2 separate regions of the Homo sapiens genome follow, and region 1 is linked to region 2. The links come from fine-mapping of genetic effects on gene expression. Tissue or cell type: caudate. Region 2 holds a variant in brackets; the other region holds the start of a gene. All regions are shown on one strand. Distances are between the middles of the regions.

Region 1 (2,630 bases), 130 kb after region 2:
TATGTTCTATTTTAGAATCATATTTGATTAGTAAGAGTAGAATCCTCAACACTCTGTTGACTCAAGAATCTCCTGAAATCAGGCGGTTTGTTCCCACTGTTTTGAATTTAGGTCTTTTTCAACTAGTATTTATGTTCAATAAACAACTTAACATAGCTGTTTTAACCTTCCTTGTTATTCAAGAAAGCAAAGACCACAGCTCTCAACTTATATGGGATAGCCAACCCGGAGGCTATTCTCAAGGTTGTTTTAAAATCTTCAGCTTTAAAAATTTTATTTGCTGAATAATTCAAATACAGAATCTTATATGTCTATCACTTCCCAGTGGGATCTTCTCAAGGCAATTCATGAAGCAGTTTGCAGAAGATAAATTACATTTTTTTGAAAACTGTGAGTTATAAGATAAAGAGCACATCACTGTCACACGCAATTAGGAGAGACTAAGATGTTACCTGCTTTAAACTTGTATTTAACAATTCTCTTCTCCTTTTTTTCCTTAGGGGAAGTGATTCAGTTAGACAAATTCTTAGTCGTAAAGCTCAGCAAAGACAGATGTCAGCCAGCTTTAGTTCAGTTGAACAATGTGGGGGTTAGGATGCTGATCCCTGCACAGTTGAAAATTCATGTATAACTTTTGACTCTCCCAAAACTTAACGACTTATAGCCTACTGCTGGCCAGAAGCCTAACCAATAACACAATTAACACATATTTTATATGCTCTGTGTATTATATACAGTATTCTTACAATAAAGTAAGCTAGAGAAAAGAAAATGTTATTAAGAAAGTCATAAGGGGGATGAGTGCAGTGGCTCATGCCTGTAATCCCAGCATTTTGGGAAGCTGAGGCAGGTGGATCACTTGAGGCCAGGAGTTCCAGACCAGCCTGGCCAACATGGCGAAACCCCATCTCTACTAAAAGCATAAAAATAAGCGGGCATGGGGGCACATGTTTGCAATCCCAGCTACTCCAGAGGCTGAGGCAGGATAATTGCTTGAACCTGGGAGGCAGAGGCTGCAGTAAGTTGAGATCGCGCCACTGCACTCCAGCCTGAGCGACAGAGTGAGACTCTGTCTCAAAAAAAGAAAGGAAGGAAGGAAGGAAGGGAGGAAATACCTGGAGGGGGCGCCTGGGCTTTGTATTATTTTGTTTTGGGAAAGAAAAGAAAGAAGAAAAGAGAAACGAAATGAAAAGAAAATAAAATCATAAAGAGGAGAAATACATTTACTATTAGTTAAGTAGAAGTGGACAATCATATAGGTCTTCATCCTCATCTTCACATTGAAGGGACGGAGGAGGAGGAGGAACGGTTGGTCTTGCTGTCTCAGAGGTGGCAGAGGTGGAAGAAAATCTGAGTATAAGTGAACCCATGCAGTTCAAACCCATGTTGTTCTAGGGCCAACTGCATTTTTAAAATAACTGCTTTGGAAGATCTGTGTGTATGTGTGTGTATGATCTGAGAAATTAGTTAGAAGAAAAGAGGAACGAGGAGTAGAAAAATACCAGCATTTCTGATGGTCAGTTTCTTTTAATTATAGAGAGAATTCAGCGTTCACCAAAGTTGGCTTAATTACTCATTTTCTCAGTAGAAAATTTCTAAGTGTGGGGTTTGACTGATTTTTACAGAAAGAGAATAGAAGTCTTTCAAATTTGTGGGTAAGAATGATTCACCCTTCTTGCTTTTGTTAAGAAATAATTGTGAATGTTAAATTACATTAATTTTGCTGCCTGAATTGAGTTTTGAATGCTTGCTATTTCTTTCTCAGCCAAAGGATATTTAAAATGATGCCAATGGAACTCATTGATTTTAACTACAATATTTGTTGAAAACAAATACGTATATCAAGGTTACTTCATATGTCTTTTTCAAACAAAATCTCTTCCTGTGGGTGGATGTTTAACAGAAATTACACTTAGGTATTGCCAAACTTCAAAGAAAGGAAGACTTACTCATCTTTTGGATGGAGAAAGGATTCATTTACCAGACCTGACTTGGTGATTGCAGATCTTTGACTGAATTGCCTCGGAGTCTAGATTTCTCTGATAAAGAAAGACTCATTCAAACTCAGTAAATCACAAGAAAAAGAAAGAAAAATGGGGAGGAGGGAATGGGATCAATATTCTAAAAGTCTAGGATTCTAGTTTAGTTTAATTTTATAGTTATATGATGAAGAAGAGAGGAGAAGCCTGGCTAGAAAGGTGGATGTTTGTCACTCAATTAATGTTTTTTTGCTTTTACCCAATTCATGTTCTTGAAGCTGCTACATTTACTGACCTACAATAAGTGTAGAGAGGATGAACTATATTGATAATCCTGTTTATTGACCAGATTGAATACTCAGGTTTGATTTTTGCATTTTTGGATATGTTTTAAAGGTAGAAGATCTTAAATTCATATTCAAAATACCTTTTATCCTGCCTTTCACTTAAGGAAAATTATCTGGAAATTGAAAGTCCTCCAGGCAAAGGTCTGGCTGTGATATTACTTCTGGGCGACACTTCTCACAAGAGGGAAGATAAGTAAATTGCTCTGACTGCTTTTTATTCTTGAGGTTCCTGCTCCCCCCAATCCCCTGCCTGCAAAGTTATTAGATAAGTAAAATAAGGTTGAAGAAACATAAGGGATAGTCT
Region 2 (2,768 bases):
CTCACAAATCTCCACTAAAGAACTTACTCATGTAACCGAATACCACCTGTACCCCAATAACTTATGGAAAAATAAAATTAAAAAAATTAAAATGCCACTTTTATTTAAATTTTGCTGAATGTTAAACAGCAGCACTTAAATATTGGTTTGTAATAATTTCTAAAATGGGAACATTTTGAACAGCAACAATCAGCCATGCTTTTATATGTATGCCTGTATGTATGTGTGTGTGAAAATGGAAAAGAAATTGTGTTTAAAGTTTTCGACTTATAGTCTACTTTTGCCCCATGCTCTGTTGATAATATCACTGTTTTAGGCCTACTCATTTAATCAAACTGTGAAGTTTTCTTGAGCATGTGTTTAAATCTTAGGGAAAACATTAAATCCATTTCAGACTGTAAACTCTGTGTGGACAGGAACCACACTTATTCTCTAGGACACATTCAGAATCTGGCAAGTTGCCCTCTGAGTTCTTTCAATAGTCATCCAATAAAGTATGAATCAAGCTTCTATTTTGTGCCACCTGATGAGCACAGCCAACAAAGACCAGGTTACCAGCTCCATGGGGCTTACAGTCTTGCTAGTTAGCACTTAAAAGCCAATTAATAAATGAAGGAAAGAAGGGAGGGAGGGAGGGAGGAAGGAAGGAAGGAAGGAAGGAAGGAAGGAAGGAAGGAAGGAAGGAGAAAACAAAAGAAGAAACATTATTTAAAAAAAAACACCAGGTTTGGTGAAACTGAGTGTTTTCTCATGATGTCTGTCCAGTTTCTTATAGCATGCTTATTTGTGCATTCGCTTTCAATTAGGACCATTTGGGAAGTAGAATTTCATCTTTCATCAGATGTTTAAAGAGACCGCAAAAAAATCAAAACCTTGAAAATAATTTTAATAACGCTTATAACCAGAGGGCAAGTAAAGTTTGAATTAAATGTTCAAATGTAATACAATATATTCATTTCATATAATTCATAATATGAACTCCCTGTTTTTTTATGTTTCTCCCTACCACTAGATAGGGTTCCTTGAGGGCAGTGATGGCGTCTTTTTCATCTTAGTATCCCCAGCACCACCCAGCATGGTGTCTGCCACTTAGTTAGAACGTGAAAACATTTGTTGTCTAAATGAATGCATGAATGTTGAATGACTTCTTGCGTCTTAAAACACAGCATACAACTTTGCCAGTTTTAACGTACAATGACAACATTTACCTAAGCCTGACTCCCATGAGAACATTATACTACTTCTTCCTTTATAACTCAAACTAGTTTAATTAGCATGCA[T/C]TGAACACTAATCCAATACAATGTACCCATTCAGACTCTTGTCTGGCTTGTAAAAGATTTCAAACACAGAGTAACAAAATGTTACTCCTGAAAAAGGGAGCAAAATCAGAATAAACAGAATAAAAAGACTTGGAAAATGTATAGATGCCTTCAATCACGGTTGATCTTGTTTTTAAGATTCTTTGACTTGCGCAATATTTAAAAGCCACAGAGGAAAGCAAAAATTTGGTAAGTAAAGCCTAATTCTTTTCATGTTAAAAGTTAAGCAGATGCAAGAGACTCCAGCAATAATGGATGTGCCATCGACGCATTCAAATGCAGATGACTAATTTATTCAAGCTGTATGTTAGCTTCCTTGTGCTCATTAGTTGTTGTAATGGACAGACATATTCTGGGAATTACTAATGCTCTGAAATAGGAACAGGGGCTGGTAAGAGACACTGGCTAATGAAGCCAGACGTTTTAAAAGATTATTTTTTCTGTAAGTGGAAGAAACAGTGATTACAAGTGCTTTATTCTTCCTCTCCTGCTTGCAGATTTGTGACTACATTTAACACCTTAAAGAAAGAGCTTTTTAGGACAGATACACATGTATGATTTCTCATTTTACTCAGTAAATCATTTTACACCTCACTGAAAGTCCTGAATTTCCACCACTATTAATAGCATTTTCATAAGGATATATAGCTGTATTGGCCACTGGCCTGACTTGGTATGATGCATTCCATGAAGTTACATGTTTGCTTTTTGTAAACCTATGCCCTGAATTACAGACTGCTATTTAAAAGCATATAAAGATGCAAGCAAATCCATTATAATGGGATTGAATGTATCTGTATGGATAGTAAAAGTTTAAAACTGAAATGTACAAGTGTTCAGAGAAAGCCTAATTTCACTTCCAGAGAAAAGACTTCACAGAAATGAGATTCCATGAGTTCCTAAAACTACCCAGGAGAGCACTCTGGAATATTCAATAGTATATAGCACTTTTTAGTTTATAAAGCACATTCATTTATGATCTATCTGATTTATTTCTCATCTAAACCTTGTTATAACAACTGATACTTTTGTTTACATATGAGGCGCCAGGCTTCCTATTAAGAACTTAAATGCATTGTCTTTGCCTGTGAGGTAGATATCACTATTCCTCTATGTTAATTAGGGTAAGTCAAACTGCTATAACATACAGTCTGAATATTCAATGGATTTGAAAGAAATGTATACTGGAGTAGAAGTTCCCCATTAGAAATAGCTCTGCATCATGCTGACATTTAGGAACCGAGGCTTGAGTAACTAGCTACCATCTTCACAATGCAACCTCCCACGTCACCATGTTACTCCCACCGGGGTTACTTACAAGGAGGAAAAAGGACATTGGTGCCTTAGGTGATGGTAGATGGTGGTGCATGCAAGTTTGTATTGTCCAAACTTGGAAGTGGTATACATCTCTTCCACTTATATTTTATTGGCTAGAACTCTGTCACATGA

Which allele goes with the higher level. Positions count from the first base shown, and alleles are read on the strand shown. Sizes are in standard deviations (SD) of each study's normalised expression.
For the expression in caudate of the gene that starts at base 1,622 in region 1, allele T in region 2 goes with a lower level than allele C (moderate effect, 0.72 SD a copy in GTEx).

The links. PIP is the estimated chance that this variant, and not a neighbour inherited with it, causes the effect.
Region 1: it holds the start of SLC39A12-AS1, and the variant in region 2 is fine-mapped to the expression of SLC39A12-AS1 in caudate (GTEx, PIP above 0.99). The same link has a PIP of 0.9 or more in amygdala, cerebral cortex, hypothalamus, nucleus accumbens and putamen.

The regions. Positions count from the first base shown.
Region 1 is chr10:18,009,554-18,012,183 of GRCh38, reverse strand. It overlaps SLC39A12-AS1 (SLC39A12 antisense RNA 1), which reads left to right and starts at 1,622. Exons shown (of 5, transcript NR_038419.1): 1 at 1,622-1,655; 2 at 2,431-2,519. The region is part of intron 12 of SLC39A12 (solute carrier family 39 member 12); the gene reads right to left.
Region 2 is chr10:18,135,002-18,137,769 of GRCh38, reverse strand. No RefSeq gene overlaps it. Among named protein-coding and RNA genes, the nearest start is that of CACNB2, 4.0 kb to the left of the region's middle. RefSeq lists an enhancer at 881-1,847. The variant T/C (reference allele first, on the strand shown) is at 1,281.